Regions from separate parts of the Homo sapiens genome. Here all the other regions are linked to region 3. Evidence: fine-mapped expression QTL. A gene starts in region 3. Each other region holds a variant in brackets. All regions are shown on one strand. Distances are between the middles of the regions.

What was found.
Region 1: its variant is fine-mapped to the expression of SLC35D1 in whole blood (INTERVAL, PIP 0.99).
Region 2: its variant is fine-mapped to the expression of SLC35D1 in whole blood (TOPMed, PIP above 0.99).

What each region holds. Positions count from the first base shown.
Region 1 is chr1:67,015,070-67,023,258 of GRCh38, reverse strand. It overlaps SLC35D1 (solute carrier family 35 member D1), which reads left to right. Exons shown (of 12, transcript NM_015139.3): 9 at 1,657-1,724; 10 at 2,812-2,890. Among named protein-coding and RNA genes, the nearest start is that of SLC35D1, 35 kb to the left of the region's middle. RefSeq lists an enhancer at 1,917-2,715. The variant T/G (reference allele first, on the strand shown) is at 3,489.
Region 2 is chr1:67,119,257-67,127,445 of GRCh38, reverse strand. It overlaps C1orf141 (chromosome 1 open reading frame 141), which reads left to right. Exons shown (of 8, transcript NM_001276351.2): 3 at 189-280; 4 at 1,537-1,694. The coding sequence starts at 206. Among named protein-coding and RNA genes, the nearest start is that of C1orf141, 12 kb to the left of the region's middle. The variant A/G (reference allele first, on the strand shown) is at 3,959.
Region 3 is chr1:67,050,704-67,058,892 of GRCh38, reverse strand. It overlaps SLC35D1 (solute carrier family 35 member D1), which reads left to right and starts at 4,745. Exons shown (of 12, transcript NM_015139.3): 1 at 4,745-5,082; 2 at 5,904-5,937; 3 at 6,036-6,122; 4 at 6,814-6,881. The coding sequence starts at 4,880. RefSeq lists silencers at 4,641-4,830, 5,121-5,330.

The DNA of each region.
Region 1 (8,189 bases), 36 kb after region 3:
AAAACAGCTTGGCAGTTTCTTACGAAGTTAAAGATACACCTAACCAAATGAACCAGCAATCCCATTTTCTAGCTATTTACCCAAGATAAATAAAAACATGTCAGTTGGGAGACTTGTAACGGAAGGTTCAAAGGTTCATAATAACTTGTGGAAATAACCCAAATAAGTGTCAATTACCTGGTGTTTGGATAAACAAATTGTGGTATACCCATAAGATAGAATACTAATTGGCAATAAAAATGAATGAATTACTGATACATACATAGGATGGATGAGTCCTAGGAGCATAATGCCAAGTGAAAGAGAAGGAAGACACTAGAGTACATGCTATACAATTCCACTTGTAGGAAATTGTTGAACAGCGAAGTTATAGTAACAGAAAGTAGATCAGAGGTTGCCAGGGGCTAGAAATGGAGGGGAGATTGACTCAATGGGGAGGAGGGAACTTTGGAAGGAGTTGATTTCTTTATCGTGATTGTAATGGTGGTTACATGATTATACATTTGTGACTACTCATTGAATTGAACACTTAAAATTAATTTATTTTTCATGTATTCTACCTCAACAAAGAACTATAAACAAACTGTCTGTCAAGCACTGTTAGGAATATGATTAGATAAATGTGATGTGGGTCCTCCCTTCAGGGAGTTCATTCTGTAGACATGGTATAGAAAGATTTACAGTTCGAAGAGACAAGAGCTCTAGAGAGGAGTACTGAGGCACAAAGGAAGGAGTACTTGATCAGGAAGGGCCCCACAAGGGAGCCTTGAGTTTTAATTTGATGGCTGAACAGGAGTCAGACGAATGTTGAGGGGAAGGACATTCCAGGCAAAGGCATGCAAGTAAGAAAGTGTATGGTATGTTTTATAAGCCACAGGGAGCCTGGTATTGTTGGAGCCCTGGTGCCATCAGATTTATGCGGAAGTAGCAAAAGTTGAAGCTGGACAGGTTAGCAGAGATAAAAAGGTGGAATGTTTGTCACATTTGCTTATCAAACTCCTATTGCAAAAACAACTAGGTACTTGAGAATCCATTCCTCTTGGACAAGAGATGAGATGATCAGTGTACCCTTTCATTTCTCTTTATTCCTTTCCTTTTGGCTTAACACAGACAACAACAACAACACAAAATACCTTGTTTTTAGAATGAACCGTTTTAAAACAGTAATTCTCCTTGAATAGACCTCAGCTGAATTTGTATAACTAAGGCTGTATTTAAGCTTTCACATGTTACAGAAAGGAAACATGTTTTAATGTTTGAGAAAGCCTTTAGTACTAGCACATTAATAGCCATCTGAAAGAACTGAGATTAGCCAAATGTGGCTTGTGCCTTCAAGGAAATACCAGTTTCTTTGCACCAATAGTGAGAAGTATAAAATCCCCACGTTACATTTTGGATGGGAGAAAATCTTATGAAACTACTTACTAGTTCAACTCTGTATACATGAAATCTTTGAACATCACTCTCTATCCTTGGAGTAATTCAGGGAAACATATACCTGTGTGTGTGTGTGTGTGTGTGTGTGTGTGTGTGTCTGTGTCTGTGTCTGTGTCTGTGTCTGTGTTGGAGGCAGACTCGTAGAAGGATTTACATTAAAACGGGATAGCTGATTTTGAAGGCCTGGTCTAAAATTTAATGCTTTCTTGTGTGTTGCAGGCTGTGGAGTTTGAAGGCTGGGCTGACACCCTCTTTCTTCTGCAGTTCACCCTCTCCTGTGTGATGGGGTAAGCCTTTGTTACCTTGTTAGCAGATAGTTTTCCTAAAGAAATAGGTTAGAGAAATTTGCATGCCTCTTTTCTCAATATCTTTAGGTCTCCTGAGTGTGTCAGCCTAGGATAATTAAGCCTCCAGATTCAGGTGGTTTCATAGCTCTTGGGAATGTGCTCTTAGGGCTACTGAATTGATACCTTAGAAGGATGAAGAAAAGAAAAAATTTACCTGATAACCTGCTGTTTAGTAAGCACCATTATATTTCAACATGCATTATATAGTTTTATCTCTATACTGACCATTTGACAGATAGAACTTTAGTAAATTGTCTAAATTTGCGCACTTTGTAGGTGGCAGTGGCAGCATTTGAATTTGGGGCAGTTTGACCCCTCTTTACCATGTTTTCTTCCTCATAGGAGAGAATATGTAGAGGTTAAGAGGATACCTGCAAACGTGCCTCTTATCCTCATGTCCATATTTCTCTAATGTGTTTTTTTTCCTCAGCCAGTCAGTTTAGTTGCTATTTGTGACTGGATCTGGCACACAGTGAGCAGGTGCTTCAAAATAAAGTTGACCTGATGCCTTGGTACTTAAGCTGAGAAGCCTCAGTGTAAATCAGAGAGTTCCAACTGCTGCCACTTAGTTGTTAAGTGAACCTGTATCCCCTCTTAAAGTAGTTTTAATTTGGTTTTCTTCAATATTTAAGGATCTCTCTTGTCTTCGTCTGGCCCAGAGGACATGTTGTCCTTATGGAAGGTGCACAACTGCATTTTAGGGTCTGTGAGCTCTGAGCTTTCTGTCTGGCTGGCTTAGGTGTATTAGTAGGAAGCATGATCTATAAAAATAGTCATGATTGTAAGAGATGGTTCAGGGTTTTGATGAGGGCAGCAAAGAAAAACTCTTGGTAAGGAGATGAATGTGTTTCTATTTAGTGAAATTTTAAAAATTCTGAAGCTGCAGTATAAGAAGCAGTGAGGTGGGGAAAATTCATAGCTGGTCAGTGACTAGAATGTGCTGGCTTGGCCAACACTGATTGTTTATCTTGGCTAGAGATTAGTATAAAGTGAGAAACTGGATTTTATACCTCTTTCTTCATTCTAGGTTTATCTTAATGTACGCCACAGTACTCTGCACGCAGTATAATTCTGCTCTTACAACTACAATAGTTGGCTGTATTAAGGTAAGTAGAAAAATACTGTTAGCTTTTGGTACCTGCATTATTTGAAAATTGTTCCTTTAAGATAAGAGTCTGTTGATGGCCTTAAGACCCAAATCGTTATTTCCTCACATACTGTCTTAGTTTGACAAATTGTGGTGATAGTTTCTGAAATATTCTTTAAGAATGCAGGGAGGGCATAGTCTCTACTTGGAGGCAGCTTAGCTCTGAAGAGCATGGGAAAAGGAAAATGTATTATCTGAATAGAGGAAGGAATAGAATTAGGTCTATTTCTGACAGGGCAGATTAATAGCTTGGTAGTGATAAGCCTGTCCCTTTAACCCCTAATGAGAACTGCTGTGTTCTCTGCCTCACTGAGGTCTGGCTGTTTTGTAGGGAAAGTATGCTGGCCAGAAGCTAATTGGGGGGGTTTTCCTATGCCTGAGCCAAACCTTAAATGGCTCACTTTTGAAAGCTGTGTCTGACATTTCCAATGATCTCATTTCCTCCTGATCCATTTTATTTGAGGCAGACTAATTTGTCTTCAGCCAGGAGAGCCAAGTTGACTTGAATATTGAGCTAAAGTTGGTGGCTTGAAGCCTGAGGCCTCTTTCATCTGACT[T/G]TGTGATTCTAGTGCTTTATGATTCAAGAGGCCACAGCTTGTCTGAATTCCAAATGAATTAGCCAAGTGGGCCTGCTTCCTTAAAAAGGCAAAACCCAGAGAGGTAGGTCCTTAACGTTTGGGGAAAAGAGGGCCATTACCCTTGTGACTTCCTTTCTGATGCCCCATTACTCAGTAGTGAGGGAAGAGATTTCAGAGGTCAAGTTTTTACTGCTCTGCTGTTTATCTTTGTAGTCTCAATAGAGTGGTGCCCACCTGATCTCAGTTTAGAGACTAGATTGGGTTAAAATCCAGAAAGTCTGTGGTTTCAAATCATGAAATTGAACTGTTTGCTGTGAATAGAATTCCAAATTAAGCTGTAACAGGTCAATTTGTGTGAATTCCTTTAGAAAGCTAGAGACAATCTATATGCCAGGGATTGGGCTGGCTGAGACAGTTTTAGGCCCCTCCCCCAAATTAGCTCTAGGTATGTTTTGGTTTTGTAAAGTGAATGCCTCAAGGGCAAAGTGGATGGCTTTCGTCTTCAGCATAAGAGTAGCGAGAATGTGAGAAATAGGCCATGTTTTTAGTTAAGGAGACGGATGATGCCGGAAAGCCTATGTTTAATTTTAATAAGTAAACCTATTTGCCTGGGATTTCTTAGTGTACTTTATCATTATCAACATGGGATACAAATAAAGTCATTCTTGCTTATATAAGGTTTATACTTTCCTTTTGATATATGTTTCTCCTCACAGTAGTCCAAGAACTCCATGGATTTACTCATTCCAGGGTGATTAATTTTACTTACAAACTCCACAGGGAGGCAAAAACTGAATTGTCTGATTAGTTCACTACTGTTCTTGCTTCATACTGGTGCAGGGTATCACTGTTGAAGGATGGCTTGCACATGCAGACAGATGGGAATCTGCTGATACCCTTGCAGGGTCGAAGTCTCACAGGATACAGTGCAGCTTCTGTCATTAGCATCCCAGTTATAACCCATTTAGCTCAGCCATTCCTCCTACAAGAGGCTTTAAGCTTCCTTCTGTGCTTGAGAATCCCCTGCAAATCCTTCGGTCAGCATTCCTTTTTCTCTTCAGCATGGTGGGAAAATCACTTAGGATAACTCATTGAAAGTAGAAATTCCAAGGCCTACCCAGATAGACTCAGTCAGAATCTCTAGAGTAAAGCTTAGAAATGTTTATGTTTAACAGGGTTTCCAGGCAATTGTCGGGTATACTAAAGTTTGAGAATTGCAGTCTTAGTTTTGAGCTATCATGACTCTTCTGTGCTTCTTGATAATTTCTTTTTTGAAGACGTTGGTGTCTTTTCTTGATAGCCAGCCTTGCTTAGGATACCCTAATATATACCTACAGGTTTTCCAACTTCTGATTTTGAGCAGCATGGGTTGGATTCTCTGTCACCTTCATTTCTGAAGTTCCTTGGGCAACTTACATAAATTAATCCACCTCCCTGGATCCCTGTATTCAAATGACGTCCTGTTATACACTTTCCTAAGTTGCCTGCTAGCCTTGTTGTTACATGATACTTAATTTTATTTTTTCCCTTCAAATAATAGGAAAATCCTTTCTAAGGCAACCTCCTGTCTTCATCCTTAGGCCTAGAAGAGGCTGACATAATTTTGAAGGTTCTCTCAAAGGGCGTTTTATTAGAAAAATAATTTTGAAGTTTCTTTTTGGCCTTTTTCAATGTATCAATTTACTTTGTGTCTCATAGGCCTAATCTAGAGGCCTGTGAGAAATAAGTCAGATAAATATATTTTGGGGTAAAATATTTTAATTTCCTTCAGTCCTCACTTTAAAACTTCATAAAGTTTTATATATTAAAAGCCATTTGGGCCAGAGGTCATCAGAGATAGACAAAGAAGTGAAAAAACAAATCTAGATAAGCAGAAAAGAGTAAATTTAAATGTATTGCCCCATATCTTTTTTAGTCATAGTCCTAAGAATGGATTAAACATTTGTGTCCCATTTTAGAAGGTGGCATTGTAGGTACACTAGGCCTCTGTGTATGATGAAGGGAAACAGATCTTTAATAAGAGATGTTTTTGTGGAAACAGAAGAAAAAACCAAGGTTAATGTCTGGAGTAGTGTATAGAGTTTTTTAGAGTCCTTGAGGTATCTTCAGATTGCAGTGGCAATCTGACAGATTTTACTGGATTATAGTTCAAATCAGCATTGAAGTGAACTTTCTGAGTATTCTATACATCAGTAGGCATGAAGGCTGTTTGTATTTAACTTCTGATTTTTCCTGAAGTTTACGTTGTCTAGTTTCAGTTTGTAGGGCTTTAAGAAAAGCACAGTTTCAACTTTCAGTGGCTTAAAGTCAAAAATGGAAGAAAAATTTGAAAATGTTAGTTTGGAAACTTGTAGCCAGGAAAGAATTCAGGTTTTAGTCTAAATATTAGAGAAGTAATAACAACAATAACAATTAATGAGGCTAGAATCTAATTTAAACAGATGTGCTATAGTTTTATTTGAAACATGATTTTTTTCTTCTAGTCTCCCATTTTTACCAAAGATAAATCATAGTAGGATTAATTTATTTGTAAAATAAATTTTAGTCTTATTGTACTTGGCCTGCTTATTTGTATAAAGTGTAATAAGAATAGCGATTGGCCATATAGGCTCTTCTTAGATTAGTTTTATTGGAACTTTTTAATAAGGAATCTTAGATTATTAGACTTTTAAAAGCCTCAAGGCCAGGAGGCTAAGCCAAGGATTTGCCACCAGACTCTAATACCTGTAACAAATTGGGTGAATCTTTCTCCTTTTGATATCATAAAATAACTCGAGGTCCCTTGGTCTGTCAGAAAGTTACATTTTTTAATCACAGGTCAGGAAACTTATAAAGGAACTGTGTAGACAAGGGTCTTTTTATTGGCTTTATAAAGTCAACTTTAATTTCTTCAAGTAGTCTGGTCATATCTGCAAATATGTTATTTTAGTCAAAGTATTGGTAAAATAACCAGTGTCTCTGTGTCCTATTACAAAGAAAACAGATGTGTATTGAACTTATCTAAATAATTATATTCTGATAAGTTAAGAATATTTATAAATAGTTTTTAAATTTGGAGAAATTAGTTAGAAAGATGTTTTAAATTTGTTCACAAAGTATATTTTACCCAATTGTTGTAAATTATAAATAGTTTAGAAGAAAAAAAAGTTTTTTGACTGGAAAACACAGCATTTTTTTTGAAGTCATAAAAATTAGTCTTTTACTAATGTAATTCCTTGTAATTCTTATACTGTTGGATGTTAGGTTAGCAATCCTCATGAATACATCAGTTTTTTAACTAGAATACTGAAAGTTTTTACCTAGTCTAATGGTCGGATCAATAAAGTTATCAGAAACCTATATTTACAACTACTTATCAGGGTCTTTTTTTATTAATTTCTCCGAAGAAGAAGCAAATTTTGGACTCTACCGATTGTAAACTACATTTCGAGAAGAATCAAAGTAAAACAATGATTGTCAATGGAAAACAAAAGTCTTAGAATAGTTAACAATTGACAAGGAAATTTGATTATTTCATTGACATGTACCAATTTAACATAATCATAATTATTACTGATAATATATCTGAAGACATTTCAAATCTTTAGGAATCTCATACAGGTTTAGAACATATATTAATAACACATTTATATAAATATAATGCAGAGAAAGTTAAGCACCATTTTTTTAATGATTTCCATTTGATTTTAACATACTAAATAAGGCTAATATGTTTCTCTTAGACTTCTAGGGGCCCTATTATCTAAAAAGTTAGTTTGAGGTCAAAAAAACTGAATTTGAAATTTTGATTTGGGGAAATATGTCAGATAACAAAGGTTTAAAACAGGATTGCAGGCCACTAAAAGATATCATTAGTCAACGTGATAATTTAAAGATTTTAAAAAGCAAAACCTTTTACTCTTGGTAGAGACTTATAAGACATAATAAAGATACCATGAGTCATACTGAATCTGTTTTTCCCTCTACCCCCTCTTTTTTGTAATTTATTTAGAAGGTAAATAAAATTTTAAAAATTATTTTTTATCAATAGTACATAAAAATTTTGTTTGAAAGAGAAAACTGCCTGGGCTTGGTGGCTCACGTCTGTAATCCCAGCACTTTGGGAGGCCAAGGCAGGGGGATCATTTGAGGCCAGGAGTTTTAGACCAACCTGGCCAACACAGTGAAACCTGTTTCTACCAAAAATACAAAAATTGGCTGAGCATGGTGGCATGCACCTGTAGTTCCAGCTGCTTGGGAGGCTGAGGCAGAAGAATTGCTTGAACCCAGGAGGGAGAGGTTGCAGTGAGCTGAGATCACGCCACTGCACTCCAGCCTGGGCAACAGAGTGAGATCCTGACTCAAAAAAAAACAGAGAAAATTCGATTTTATTTTTGTATTAGTGTATTATTAACATTAAAGTTAATTTTTAATAAAGCCTTGTAAATAAATCTATTTAATTTTAATTAGTTTGACCACAAGATTTTTATACGTTTTTAAATAGCCTCTTAAATTTAAACATTTTTAAAATTTTTTATTTTTGTTTTTTTAATTAAAAACTTTTTAAACGTTTATACTAGGCAAAATCTTTTTTTTTTTTTTTTTTTTTTACAAAAACACATTTTTATGTGTTTTATAACCTTTTTTACTAAAAACACATTTTCCTTTTGGAATATACTTTGCGTATGGAATTGTTTATTT
Region 2 (8,189 bases), 69 kb before region 3:
TCTGATCATATAGCCTTCAATTGAAAAAACTTGGGTACATTTACAATTCTATGATTTACTGTATGATTTAAACAATTCTATTATTTACCTAAAACAGTAATGTAAAAGTGAGTCTTTTGAAAACTTATGCCTAGTTTTATGTTTAAATTTGAATTGATTTGTTCTTCTTCCTCCTTATTTTAAAATAGGAATTTAGTGATTGACAATGGCAGAAAAAATCCTAGAGAAGTTGGATGTCCTTGATAAGCAAGCAGAGATAATCTTGGCCAGAAGAACAAAGGTTTGTGACGTATAAGCTACAATTCAGTTTAATCATTAACAGGTTAACATTTCAAATGTGAATAATTTTACTTTTTAGCTAATGATACATTAATATGATATAAACTAATTTGTAAAAAGCAACTAATTATACTAGTTGAAAATGTAATGTATACAAATATAAAAATTTTATTGCTGATGTACAAAGTTTCAACGAATCATCCCATGAAGGGCTTTTGGATTGTTTTGACGATTTTACTAGTAAAAATAAAGCTGCTTAAAAAATAAAATAAAGCTGCTATGGACATTTGCATCCAGGTTTGTATGAACATGAGTTTCCATTTCTCTGAGGTAAATGCGTGAGAGTGTGATTGCTGGTGCGATCTTTCTCTTAACTTTAGCGAGATCAAAGCCGCAAGATTTGGTTTGAGTTCCCCCAATCCAATGGGTTTCTCCTCCCTGCACCTCAGCCCTGAAACCACCTCCAGGAAGTAAGCTGGGCTATTAGAGGGTAGACCTCAGTTATTTCCCTTCTTTCAGCGATCTGTCCTACTCTGTTTTCTAATAGCTGGGGGCAGTTGTTTTCATATATTTTGCCTGAGCTCCTAGTTGTTGAGAGCAGGAGACTAATTCCCATAGTGCTCCATCTATTGGCAGAAGCAGAAGTCCCCCATATCCTTTGATTTTGCTTTCAGGGTTTTCATCTCTTTATTCTTTTGAGCTATGCTCTGAGATAATTTTTTAGAGAAAACTTTCGGCTCCTTTACTCACCTTTTAGCTAGATCCTTTTTCTTCTTCAATCCATTTGTATAAGGATTTTAACAAAGTCCTCTTTTGATTACTTTCTTCACTCTATTTCTGGCTCTCACGACTAGAGGAAGATTGGTGTGATTCATCGTGCGTGTGGCTACAGGAAGAGGAGCAGGCTGGAGGGACATGCCTACTATGGTTCCAAGAACTCTATGTATCTAAATATGTAGATCTTTCCTTAAATTCTGTACTTTAGAATTAGGAGGGAGCCTTAATAATCCTCAAGTCCTACCCCCACATTTTACAGATGGGAAAAGAACAACTCAGGTCACACAGCAAAGGCATAAAAACAGTTGGTGCACTAGACCCCCAATTTTCAGTCTGTACTATTTTTCCATTATTGCCTGCCACCTAAATTCTGTGTGTGTGTGTGTGTAAAGTGAGATTTTTTTTCTTTCCACCTAAGATTTTCCCCATATAAAAAGTACTCTTTTTTTTTTTTTTTTTTTCACTTTGGCATTGCTGCAGATAAACAGGCTTCAGAGTGAAGGAAGAAAAACAACTATGGCTATACCCCTGACATTTGATTTTCAGTTGGAATTTGAAGAAGCTCTTGCTACATCCGCGTCTAAGGCAATATCAAAGATCAAAGAAGACAAGTCATGCAGCATTACAAAATCAAAAATGTAACTATCATAACCACCTTAAATTTTCAGTTCAGAATTTGTTTGTTTGTTTGTGAAACAAGGACTCACTCATTGCCTAGGGTAGAGTGCAGTGGTGCAAACATGGCTCACTGCAGCCTCAACTTCCCAGGTTTAGGTGATTCTCCCACCTTGGCCTCCAGAGTAGCTGGGACTACAGGCATGCACCACCATGCCCAGCTAATTTTTTGTATTTTTTATAGAGATGGGGTTTTCCCATGCTGCCCAGGCTGGTCTTGAACTTCTGGCCTCAAGAGATCCACCCACCTAGGCTTCCCAAAGTACTGGGATTACAGGCATGAGCCACCTCACCTCGTCCAGTTCAGAGTTTTAAAACATTACTTTATATCTGTCTTAGATTATGCAATGTATATTAAATGAAAGTTTTATGGCATATGTTATAAGGGTTATGAGTTAAAATATACTAGATTAGCTTTCTGAATATTTCTAGTTTATAAAATATTTATTATGTATAATATTTTACTAGTGTAGATGGTAATTACAATTGTGAATTTTTAAAGGAAGGCTTTTCTTGAGCTCAATTATATTGCCCCAAATTAATGTCAGGATTTATTGCAAACTTTAACTGATATACTTAAGAAAAAGTCTGCCTAGAAAACTAAGTAAGGCAATTTCTCTGTGCACTTAAAAGGGACAGCCTAAATATGTCATACTTGGTCTTTCACTGGCATTTAGTACTTGCATAATGCTATAAAATTTTTCCAAGCACATCAGAATTGTAAAGGAGAGTTCAGAAAAAAGAAGTACAAAGATGTGGAATCAGTAGAACTTCAAATTAATTGGACATTGGTAGTAGTGTGGATACTGTCCTTATCTCATTTATTCTGGGTAACAAGTTTTCCTCACTTGTTCTGTGCCTAAGTACAAAGCACTACTGTGCACCCAGTTGCCAAGCCCAAAAGCTCACAGTCATCCTATTGAATAGGGTATAGTAATGATGAAGAGAGCACAGGCTCTGAAATCAGACTGCTAAGGTTTAAATCCAGCCTTGCTACTTGTTAGCTATGTGACCTTGATTTTCACACATAGTTTAGACAGGCAGCAGCTATGACACTATGCACTAGGCAGCCCACGTGAGCACTATGACATTTGTGGGCCGGGCATGGTGGCTCACGCCTGTAATCCTAACACATTGGGAGGCTGAGGTGGGCGAATTGCCTGAGGTCAGGAGTTTGAGACCAGCCTGAGCAACATGGTGAAACCCTGTCTCTACTAAAATATATTTTTAAAAAATTATCTGGGCTTGGTGGTGCATGCCTGTAGTCCCAGCTACTTGGGAGGCTGAGGCATGAGAATTGCTTGAACTCGGGAGGCAGAGGTTGCTGTGAGCTGAGATCATGCCACTGCACTCCAGCCTGGGCAACAGAGCAAGACTCCATCTCAAAAAACAAACAAACAAACAAACTATGACATTTGCATCTAAGACCACTCCTACTTACTTACATTTTCATGTAAGTATTCTGATTAAGGCCTACCACCTGATTGTCTCGAAGCAGCTTTCTTCATGTAGCAGTTTTGTACTATTGCTCAGAGTGAAACAAACTTTTGTAGCCCAATGTTTTAGTGCAGTTTTACAGATGAAAAACCTAAGTCTGGGTGAGGTTAAACAATTTGCACAAGGTCATACAGCTAACAAATTGAAAGGCTGGATTTGAACCTTAGAAGTCTGATTTCAGAGCCTGTGTTCTTCATCACTACTGTACCCCATTCAATAGGATGCCTGCAAGCTTTGGGTCTTGGTAACTAGGTGCATTGTAGTGCTTTGTACTTAGGCAGAGACCAAGTGAAGAAAAGGAGATTGGGGTGGATAAGAGGATCAAAGTGAGAAGGGCTGGGATTTATTTCATAGATGTTAAGTTTTAGATGCCCATAGGCATCTAAACATTCAGGTAGAGATATCTGGAAGAAAGCTGCCACCATTGATGAAACCGTGGCAGGCAAACTTGTTAGCTCGTAAGTAGGGTCAAATCTCAGACTCTTAGTGGTTTTTAACACCTACTTCTAGGGAAGCTTAGGAGTAGAATAACTGATACTTGGATCCTCCTTAGAAACTGTGGTAAAAGTAATTGTATCTCAGTCTTCAGTGAGTTATAGAACACCCTTATCCAGGTCCCTGTCAGCCTAGAAGGAAACTTTATATCCATTTTATCTATCCTACAATTCTATCTGCTTCTAGATAGCAGAATTTATAATTTAGTTATACCTCAGCCAAATAAAAAAATTTT[A/G]TATAATAAAATGGAAACTTCAAAAAATATGACAAGAGACAAATAAACTAGAAAAGAAAGTCAAGATCAGTTGAGGACAGGATTTGTGTATAACTAATCTTATAAATCAAATGTATAATACTTAGTTTTTAATTCAATACATTGCTTATAAACCATGTTAAGTATGCATTTGTTGGAGGACTAAAAAAAAGAAAAGCTGTCAATCTCCCAGTATGTTCACCAAACTTTGGCTTTCCTCTCATAAGCGCACTGAACTTTTATTTTTATTTATTTTTTTTTTTTGAGATAGAGTCTTGCTCTGTTGTCGCCCAGGCTGGAGTGCAGTGGTATGATCTCGGCTCACTGCAACCTCCCTCTCCCGGGTTCAAGCGATTCTTCTGCCTCAGCCTCCCGAGTAGCTGGGACTACAGGCATGTGCCACCACACCCGGCTAATGTTTTGTATTTTTAGTAGAGATGAGGTTTCACCATGTTGGCCAGGCTGGTCTCGAACTCCTGACCTCGGGTGATCCACCCGAGGCCTGACAAAGTGCTGGAATTACAGGAGTGAGCCACTGCATCCAGCCTAGCACACTGAACTTTTAAGAGTACTTGGGAAACTTAGTATGTTTAACACCTCCCAAAAGAATGTTAAAATGACCACAGTTTGCAAAATTGAAGAGAAAACAATGGCAACATAAGGCACAATATTGGTAATCAAGAAGAAACTATAGCCATGGATATGGAAGACATTAAAATAATTATAATGAATGCTTTGTGTAACTACATTGCTTTGACACATGGGTGTAATAATGGATGAACTTTTGGGAAAATATGAAAGGGAAAAATCTCAACAAAAAAGAAAACATAAATAGATCAATAACTGTAGAAAAATTTGAGGAAGCAGTCAAAGAATTCTTTTACAAAAGTACCACTTTGAAGCTGTGTCAAAGGTGAGTTTCTTTGTAGTTTCAAAGAACTATTTAAATAGTTTTGGAACACAGACAAAGGTGGAACAGTTCTCAGTTCTTTTCTGCAAAGGTAGATTTGATCCTTAAGTCTGACCACAAGAATAGAAAGCAAATATAGATTTTTAAAGAAATATAAAATAAAATGTTAGTTTTAACTATTTCATTGCTTATTCTTGATTCAGGGACATAAAAACATAAAGCAGCCCAGCCATGGTGGCTCACACCTGTAATCCCAGCACTTTGGAAGGCCGAGATGGCCTGATCACCTGAGGTCAGGAGTTCAAGACCAGCCTGGCCAACATGGTGAAACCCCATCTCTACTAAAAATACAAAAGTTAGCCAGGCATGGTGGCGGGCTCCTGTAATCCCTGCTACTCGGGAGGCTGAGGCAGGAGAATAGCTTAAACCCTGGAGGTGGAGGTTGCAGTGAGCTGAGATTGCACCATTGCACTCCAGCCTGGGCACCAAGAGTGAAACTCCATCTCAAAAATAGTAATAGTAATAAAGCAGTTTTATATTTCTCTAATTTCATCCTGATCACTTTGGTTATTAAAAGTCTGTCCAACTTAGTATTTTGATCTCACCCCTCGTCATGGCTTTCCCGTCCCTATACAAGCCAGTCTAATGACACAGGGAGCTGAAATGGAGAGGGGTATGGTCAGCAATTTGATTACTCCTGTTCCCTCAACTGAGAGTAGGAGGTTGATATGGCCTTCTTCTAGCACAACTCCTCCTCACTCTTCTTCTAATTTCTTTTTTCTCTTATATGGGTACAGTGGTGTGCTAAAGCCAGCTCCTACCAATTCATTAGAGCTGCTTGTTGAATTTTCAGCAATTTTGTGAGATGTTTATTAAACACTCACCATTAAAAATTAAATTATGTAAACTTAAAATTCAATGGCATACCAAAAATAAAGATAATACTCAAAACTCATCACTTCCTAATTATTGTATATTTTACTATTATTCATGGTTTTGAAGTTATTTACATCTACTATATTCATATGGTAGAAATTTGTATAACAGTATGCTACTACACATCTCTTCCAAATTTCACATTTAATTATATCACATTGGTAGAAATTGACAACGGGAGTATTTACACCACAGCAATTGGCAAACACTACAAATCAAGGCTTGAGTCGTTGTCTGTCTAGATTTAAGAAAGTGAGGAAGAAAATGTTAATGATGAAGATTAAACTTAAAAGTAAGTCTTACCAAAAAAAGTATGCCTTACCTATAGCCATTATGCTTTGAATAGCATGAAAAATAAGGAAATATTCAAAAACTATTATTTGGTTCAGCAAAAAAGTAGCTTACACCATCGATGAATGAGTAAAATTCCACATTAAAACTACACCCAAAGGCAAGGTTATTAAAATTTTACCAGCACATCCTCCTGTATGGGAGTAAAGGAGGAGGGAGAGAGAAGAAGACAAAAGTTCTTATTTCTTTCTGGACACTGTTTCCAACTTTTCCCTTAGTCATCAATCATTTTCTGGCCAACTTTAGTCATAAAGAGCACATATGAGAGATCCTCAGAGGAACACATTCTCCAACCAAGGAGAGCAGCTACAACTCTTCAAATTCTCCATCAACTCCTATACTCTCCAATATACTCCACAATTTCTTCTGCGAAGGATCCCCAGGCTTTCAGTCAGCAATCTGGGTAGAGTATCAGCAAATTGACCCAAACACAGTTACTACCTCAGTATCCATTTGACCCCCTATATTAGTCAGTTCAAGCTGCTATAAAGAATACCATACCCTGGGTGGTTTAAATAAATTTATTTGTCATAGTTCTAAAGGCTAGGAAGTCCAAGATCAGTGTCTGGTGAGGACACTCTTCCTGCTTTGCAGACAGCTGTCTTCTTCTTGTATCTTCACATGGCAGAGAGAAAGAGACAGATAGCACCTCTCTCATGTCTTATAAGGGCACTAATCCCAATCATGAGGCTACACCCTCATGACCTAATTACCTCTTAAAGGCTGCACCTCCCAAAACCATAACTTTGGGCATTTAGACTTCAATATATGAATTTGAAGGGGGGGATGCAAATATTCAGTCTGTAGAATTCCACCCCTGTCCCCCCCAAATTTACATCTTTCTTACATGGAAAATACATTCATCCCATCCCAATAGATCCAAAATTCTTAACTGGTTCAGCATCAACTCTAAAGTCCAAACTCTCAACTAAATATCATCTAAATCAGATATGGATGAAACTTGAGGTAAGAGTACCCTGAGACAAAATTTCTCTCCAGTTGTGAACCTGTGAAGGCAAACAAGTTGTTTGTTTCCAAGCTACGTTGATGGGATAGGTGTAGGATAGACATTCTCATTCCAAAAGGGAGAGATAAAAAAGAAGGGAGAAATGACAGGTCCTGAATAATTCTAAAACCATGCAAGCAAACTCTATGAGATCCTAAGGTTTGAGAATAATCCTCTTTGGTTCAAAGCTCTGCCCTCTAGATTCACTAGACTAGTGGTCCTGCCTCCAGAACCCACTCAGGCAGGGGTCTCACCTCTGAAGCTCTGCCTAGCGGGAGTTGCACACCCATGGCTCCACTGGGCAGGGGTCTTACCCTTTGAAATAGAAGTGGAGGCAGCCCTGTCCCCTGAGCACATGCCCTCTGGGCCTGTTGTGGGAGTGGCATCCCTGATTATCTTTGAATTGCTTTTGAGGTCCTTCTTCCCTTGTCTTGAAAAATAGTGCACAGTTATAGCTGAACAGCTGCATACAGTAGCTCTATGATCTGGTCCTGTAGAATCTAAGAAGTTCAACAGTTTTCTTTCATTTTTTCCCACTTTCTCTGTTTCCCTTAGTCCCAGCTGGCAGTGTTTCTGCTGGTATAATCCCATCTCTATTCCTGGCTTCTGTTGAGATGGCTGATTTGGTCCTTGTTACACATCCACACTGACCTACCTATCAAACAGTCAACTTACTATACCTTTAGTGTTCTCTCCCAAGCATACTTTTTCATTCTTTTGTAATATGAGCAGGCTGAAAATTTTTCAAATCTTTAACTTCTGGTTCCTTTTTCCTTAATAATTTCATCTTCAATTCATTTCTTTCCTCTTGCATTTTACTATAAACATCAGTAGGAACCAAATCACTCCTCAACACTTTGCTTAGAACTAACGTCAGCTAACTATCCAATTTCATTGCCTGCAAGTTCTGCATTCCACAAAATACTAAAACACAAACACAATTAAGCCAAGTTCTTTGACATTTTATAACAAGCACCACCTTTCCTCCAGTTTCCAATAACATGTTATTT
Region 3 (8,189 bases):
ACTTGGTCATTGAAGAAAGCATTGACATTGCCAGAACGTCTTGTAAAAGTAGGTCTTGTCCATCTGCCCCAAAGGAGGCAGGAGTGTCCAGTGGAGGAACACAGAATAAATGCTAAACAGACCTAGGACCGAATCTGTACACAGTCACTTAGAGCTGTGGGATGCAGTGTATGTCTAATACTCCCTCTCAGCCCTTGTTTTCCTGTTTATATGTTGTTTCACCATACCTGCTTCTCACAGTGGTTAGGGTGAAATGAGATAATGAATTACAAGAGAAGCACATTGTGAGGCTCATCATCAGTGGACAATAAGTTCATTCTTTGCAGTCCAATGTAGAAAAGTACAAGGCACTGCAGAGAAGAGAAGCTCCATGCTGATTCTCAGAATTTTTAAAGTATTGTTCAAATAGGAAACATGTATGACCTTTGCTCCTTGACTATAAAGTAACCAGCTGTGCAGCACAGCAGGTCACTGGGTATGATCTAGGTTGGCAGTGAAATAGGAAACTGGTGAATGCAGGTGGATAACAAAAGAGGCCTATATACATTCCACTATGAGAGGAGCAAGTGGGCCAAGGAAAAGGGAGAAGCGTGGAGAAAAGAAGTAATATAAGCTATGTTTTAAAAAACTGTGTACAGAATCAATATTCCCTCAATGAAAAACAGGATACCTAACGGCAATGTTTTGATAAAAAGACATCATTTAATACTAAGAAGAGTTTTTGCTAGTAATTCTACCCAGTAAGATGTAAAATTTATCAACCCACAAAGTTGACCTTTCCAAATAGAGTACACTTGTACCTAAGTGAGAACATTTAATTCAGTCTTTCTTATCTTGAACAACTTTTTAAGATATATTTCAATATTTATTCAGTTTCACCCAATGATGTGTAAATACTCCATATATAATTCTGTGATTAATATTACTGAAGTGAGGAAACAGATCTGAGGACCTAAAATACCAAAATTTACCCCAAAGTCTAAGTACCTATAACATGGGAAAGAGATAAAAATCCTACTAGAGATGGCACCTATCTTATCTTTGTGGGTACCTAATGAGAATGCTTGACTCCATTAAACTCTATAGCATTTTACTGGGGGTCCACAGCAACCAAATCATTACTGGAGCTGAGAAAATCCAATGCAGTTCATGGCCTGTGATAGGTCTTAAATATTTGTTAATTAATAAAGTAATCATGCTGAGAAAAACAGTAGTTGCCTGGATCAGCACTCTTATTTTTATTTTCTGTAATCATAACTTATGATTTTGAAAATTTGTACCTGGCATTTCATACTTCCACAGGGTAGAACTTGAAATATTATCTCACCTCTTCCATTGTTCTCCATTGCTGCCCTCTTGACTTTATAAAAGAGGGTTTCATTTTCATACCGTGTTAGCAGGAATAAAAAATGAGTATAAACTCTTTGGAGGTTGTTAATTTGGAATTTCCTCAATTCTATTAATTTTTTTATTAAAAAGTAGCCTTAACTAAGCAATTCTACTTCTAGAAATTTATACTTGCACAAAGTTGAATGGACAAGCATTGTTTGTACACTGAAAAATGGCAATAACTTAAATGTCTATAGGGTTACATGATGATGCATCCAACTAATGGAATACTCTGAAGCCTTTGAAAAGAATGAGGTTAAGTTTAAGCGTTGCCACAGAAAGACCATCAAGGAATAGTAAGTGAAAAGAGGAAGACTGCCTAATAATACTAGTGATAACAGTAATTGTAATAAACACTCATATTATGTTCTAAGCACTTTACATTCATTAACTCATTTAATTCTCATTGTAACTCTATGAGGTGGGTACTATTGTTATCCCCATTTTACAGGTGAGGAAATTGAAGCACAGTGATGTCTAGTAATTTGCCCAAGGTCACAAAACTACTAAGTGTCAGCAGCAGTGTGTGGCTTGAGGATTAGTGTTCTTCTCTGGTTCTATTCCAGGTATGTTTTTTAAAATGTGTAAAAATGTGTATATATGTATATATTTGCTTTTTATTATGAGGGTCATTGTTACTTCTATAATATTTTTTCTGCAAGGATGTTTCTTAAAATACAATGTTTTAGTTATTTTTCCTTTTGAAGCTAGCAGTCAAGGAAGAAATTTAATCATTTTCCTTGTTTCCATTGATTCAATCAACTAAAATATCTAAACTGTGTTAGGCACCCTTGCCTGCCACTGTCCTCAAGAAGCAACTGTCTAGTGGAAGAGAGTGATATGTAAACATGTAATGCAGAGCCCCTTTGCTACGGTCTGTATGTGTCCTCCAAAATTCATATGTTGAAACTTAATCACCAATGTGATATTATTAAGAGGCAGGCCCTTTAGGAGGTGACTAAGTCATGAGGGCTCTGCCTTTGTGAGTAGGATTCATGCCTTATGAGAGAGGTTTCACACAGTGTTTGTCCCTTTCTGACCTTCTGTCCCTTCTGCCATGTGAGGACATGGTGTTCTTCCCCTTCAGAGGATGCAGTGGTTAAGGTGGCACCTTGATCTTGGACTTCTCAGCCTCCAGAAGTGTGAGAAAATAAATTTCTATTTTTTATATGTTATCCAGTCTCAGGTATTTTGTTATAGCAGCAGCAGCAGATGGACACTCTATAAAGGGGGTATATAAAGATGCGGTAGGAGAGGCACAAAGGAGAGAGATCAATTATGTAGAGGGAAGTGGGGGGCAGTGTGAAGGCTGCCCAGAGAAGAGGTAATGTTCTGCCAAAATACGGAAGGAAATGTAAGAGTTTTTCAGGAGCTGGGTGAGAGGAGGAAGAGAAAAAGCAGCCCAGATGGAGGGAATAATGGGAGTAAAGACACAGAAGCCGGAACCCACATTGTTGATTTATCTGCACCTTAGGGGAGGGAAACGTGAATAGTGCCTCTGGAGATGTGGGTAGGAACCACATTATCTAGGACCTTGTAGGCTATGTTAAGAACCTCATCCTGTGTACCAGTTTTTTAAGAAACACTTGAAGAACATAGGTGTTCTCAAAGTAACTCAAAAGATATAAACCAATTATACACATATAATTTAATATTATTCAGCCTTAAAAAGGGAGGACATTCTAACATATGCTACAACGTGGCTGAACCTTGAAGACATTACGTTAATGAAGTAAGTTCATCACGAAAGGACAAATACTACATGATTCCACTTATATGAGGTACCTAGAGTAGTCAAATTCACAGAGACAGAAAGTAGAACACTGGTTAACAGCAGAGAGGGAAGGAAGTAGGGAAACAGGGAGTGATTGTTTAAAGGGGAAAGAGTTTCACTTTGGGATGGTGAAAAAGTTCTAAAGATGGATTAGTGATGATGGCTGCAAAACGATGTGAATGCAGTTAATGCCATGCAATTGCATACTCAAAAAGGGTTAAAATGATAAATTTTATACTTTGTATATTTTGCCACAATTTATTTCTTTCTTTAAGATGGTCTTGTGCTGTTGCCCAGGCTGGAGTGCAGTAGTATGATCATAGCTCATTGCAGCCTTGACCTCCTGGGCTCAAGCCATCCTCCCACCTCAGCCTCCTGAGTAGCTGGGACCACAGGCGTGCGCCACCACATCTGGCTAATTTTTTTATTTTCTTGTAGAGAGAGGGTCTCACTTTGTTGCCCAGCATGGTCTCAAACTCCCGGGCTCAGGCATTCCACCTGCTCCCAAAGTGCTGGTATTACAGGTGTGAACCACTATACCTGGTTTACCAAAATATAAAAATAAGAAAAAAAAAAAAAAGAAATTTAAAAAGATACAGACCAAGCACTTAGAAAAATAATTCAAAGTTCTTCTTTCCTAATCTATTAAAGTTCAATACGTAATTTCTTTGCTTAAACCGATCATAATGATTTGCTTCTGTTATACAATAATGACTACCATTTACCGAAAACTAGCTCTTTGCTAGCTACACATCCACAGAGATCAGGTTCAGGGAGGTCATCTAATTGGTCCAAGACACACAATAAGGAGTGAGTGTGTTGGTGGGGGGGGGGGGGGTCGTCATTTCTAGGAATCCTACAATTGGAAATCAAGTCTTTTAGGCTCCAAACACCTTGTGCTTTCCCCAATCCCCAAGCTGCTTATCTTGCTACTTTTTGGGATATGTCAACATTTTTCTTAAAACAAACAAACGAAACTTCTCAATCTGAAAAGTATTGTTTGGTGTTTTCTGGGTTCAGAAAATGTAAGAAGCCTGAGGCATTGCGGAATGAAATTTTCGTTGAGTGTTTACTGTTGATCCACATCTGATACTTTTGAAGGGTTTTTACCCCCTGCAAGAGAGACTAAAAGAGCATTCAGAATTAGTCTAGACGCAGTGTACTGTAACTACTTGGCCGGCCACCTGTAACAGAGGGGAGGAGGGTCTGCACTTAGTTGCGGCAGTTATCCGGAGAATACGGCCTTCCAGCCCCTCTGCCACCAGACTCCCCACGCCCCAGGTACGCGCCCCGCGGAGAGACCCAGCGCGTGCTCGTGCGCAGGCGCAGGGCGACTGTCACCCGGAGTCTGTGGTTTGTCGCCCGGCGCTCTGGTGTCTCGATGTAGTTCCCCTGGCTTCTCCTTATCCGCCTCGGGCAGGGGGGTCGCCACTGCCCCTTCTCCAGGCTCTCTCCAACCCCTGCCCAGGCTAAGCCCGGCGCGGCCCTACTCTCTGACCCCGCGTTGCACAATGCCCGAGCAAAGTCTCCAGGGGTGTGAACCCCGGCGTCCCTGCCCCTGGGCGGGGACAGGCGGCGGCCAAGCGGGGAGTCGAGGCGGCGAGCGCGCAGCTGGCCTAGTCTGCGGTCCCCAACTCCTGGAGTCCCCTGGGAGCTGCCGCTGCAGGCCCCCGAGCCGCTAGGCCCCGCCGCCAGGCCACCGCTGCTGCGGCAGCCATGGCGGAAGTTCATAGACGTCAGCATGCTCGGGTTAAAGGAGAAGCCCCCGCGAAATCCTCCACACTCCGAGATGAGGAGGAGCTGGGGATGGCGTCGGCCGAAACGCTGACCGTGTTTCTGAAGCTGCTGGCCGCCGGCTTTTACGGCGTGAGCTCCTTCCTGATCGTGGTGGTGAATAAGAGCGTGCTCACCAATTACAGGTAGGGCCGAGGCGGCGGCGGCCCAGGCCGCGGAGGAGGAGCGGGCGGCGGCGGCGGCGCGGCGCCGGCTCCCTGGACTTTGACTGCCAAAGTTAAAGCCGAACAAAGTTGGGCGGGAGCTGGGGAGGGCGGGCGGCTGACGCGCGCGGCCCGGGCAGCGGAGCCGGCCTGGCGAGCGGGCCTGTGGCAGGGGTCCGCTCCCTGCGCGGAGCTCCGGCCGGCCCGGCACATTTGGGGCTCGCCTGCCATGCCCTGGGCGCACCGCCCCGAAAACCCTGCCCTTCAGAGAGATGGAGCAAAGTGATTTGCTTGGTGACTTTTGAGCCGTTATGCCTGTCGATCAGGGAGGAGAGCGAGGGAAGCCTCCCTCCTCCGCAGCCTGGACAGGGGGCCGGGGCTTCAGTGTCCCCTGCACCCGCTGACAGCCTCTGGGGACGTACGCATCCTCAACCCAGCAGACAATTATTCCCTTGCTAACACTGGGACCCAGAGGCAGAAGTTGGTTGTTTTTTTTTTTAAGGTGTGTGAAATCGTTGCAGAGATCTGTATCTGCACTGCCTTGAGAAATCCTTTGCAGGCAGCGGACTGAAACTGTAGACTCGGACAAGATGGGACAAGCGGCCGCCCGAGGCTACATCAGCGGGGTGGACTGACAACCAACAGGCAGAGAGTTTTCTCCCAAGATTTTTGTTTGATTTAGGGGCGGACGTTGATGTGGCTTGTATCGGAATGCCTTATTAACGTTGCCGATGTGCAAATTGAATTCACGGAGCTAAGTTAGGTTTGTTCTGATCTTGTTTTTTTCTTTGCCCTTTTTGTAGATTTCCCTCCTCACTATGTGTTGGACTTGGCCAGGTTAGTTGGAATCCTCACCATTACGTGGTTTATGTTGTTAGAACTTCTGTGTGTGTCTTTATGTGTAGAACAGTGAATCTGTGTTCTCTTGTTTACAGATGGTGGCCACAGTGGCAGTTCTCTGGGTGGGAAAGGCGCTCAGAGTAGTCAAGTTTCCTGACCTTGACAGAAATGTACCTCGAAAGGTAAAAGAAGAAAAGCGATACTTTATTTTGTGAAATGAAGTCAGTATGTATTAACATATTTTATCAGTGCCTTGCGTATTTAAAAATTGCAGCCTCAAAATTGCCCAGTCTAGAGTGGTTATAATGAATGTAAAGAATAAAAGTAGTAATATGTGTCAAAGAAGGCCTACAGTCTCTTTAAACTTAAGAGAAAAAATAACCTAGGAATATTCTTCTGTTTTTAATTAATGCACACTTGTTGAGAGTACAATAGTTTTGCAGTTTCTCTATCCATCTAATCTAGCCAGTGTATCCTGCATTCATTATTCTTTGGGCTTATTTTATACTGTCTGCCTCTGCTTGACTCCAAACGAAGATGAAATGCCTTTACTTTTTCTGCTGACAATAGAGCCATGGGCTCTAATACATTATCATATTTTACAGCAAATGATGTTTCTGTCTCACATTGATCATATTCATATTTCTGTCTTTTCTCCCTGCCTTCCTCCCTTTCTTTCTGCTATAGTAATGTTGTTTATCCAAGCATAAGTTTTGTTTGGGTGTTTGGGTGTCAAAATTGTGTATGATAACTAATTTTACGTTTTAAGTGGAAAAAATTTTGATCATATAAACAAAATTGTTTCTGTTTGAAAGGACCTTGTTTTAGCTATCTTTATTATTGAGTTTTGTTATCCCTTTTTAAATTTTCTAGACGTTTCCACTACCTCTACTATATTTTGGGAACCAAATCACGGGACTGTTCAGCACAAAGAAACTGAAGTATGGATAACTTTATTTTACTAGTGAGGTTAATATAATGTATTCTTAAAATTGTACTTGAATGTCAAATATTTAACACATTGTTATTGATTCTGGAAAAAAATGAAAGGACCAGAAAGCTTCTATTACTACTAAATAATGAAAGTGGTGCCAAAGGTTTTAGTTTATAGTTTATGCTCTTTTCTTTGAAGAGAAAGAGGAGTTTTTTGTTTTTGTTTTTTTACCCCTCATTTTGATGTTAGAAGTCTTAAAATGTTATAAAATGCTATGATAGGAAATTTTTATTATTTTTCTAGAGCCACAATAGTGAAGATATATACTAGGCTTCTGGGATTTCAGTTCTTTAGTATAGTTCATAAATATTTTAGGCAACTTCCACACAGCAAAATTAGAGGGTAGGCACAAGAACTTTTGCAGTTTTTCTTTTAATGTGAAGTAAGGTAACATCAGCTAGAACCCTGATAAAAATATTATTAATATCTTACACATGGCATGTAACTGTAGAGGCAACATACTTATTTTCAGAAAGAAGCAATAGCTCTCCTCTCCATGGTAACACTGTCTTTCCCTCTAACCTCCCGGTTTCTGGCTTCTGCTCTTATTGTAGTGTACATATCGGTTGTGTGTGGTATTAAAATGACACAAATAGAGAAAACATTTAACAGAAACCCCATGGCTTCACCACTACCACACAAGCTAAAACCCTGGCATTGTAAAATAGAATGGAGAGATTTTTGAGCATCAAGGACAAGGTGTTTTTCATTTCTTCCTTTAAAACCCGAGAAACCTGACAGAATGACCGAGATGATATCTCTGAAGAGGGTTCCAAGGAAGTCAGATTTATCATGGGTGGGACATTTTTTTCCATTTCATTACCCACCAGGAAAGAAATGCAGGCCTTCTGCAAAGTGCTGCTTGTGTAGAGTTTGCTTTTTTTCATCCATCTCATCCAACCATTCATTCACACCTATCTTTGATTGCCAGCTAAGTATAAGGCACTTTGGAGTGAGATAAGATATATTCAGAAATAACTATATTGCAAGAGGCTGTATGTTTGATTAGTACAAGCAAAATGCTCTGGGAATTTAGATGAAGACAAAATTACATCCACAAAAGGACAGTCAAGGCATTTCATGGGGTAAGATTTTCATAGATGGTTTTTGGGTGGTCTAGGGGGTGGGAAGGGAGGTCAGACTAGTGAAAAAATGAGAAGGAAGCCTTTTTCTATTAAAAACTGACATATTTACAGCTTAGGGTTTTGCATAATTAGAATAAAGTTTTGTAGTTAATTTAATGTTTCTCACTTCT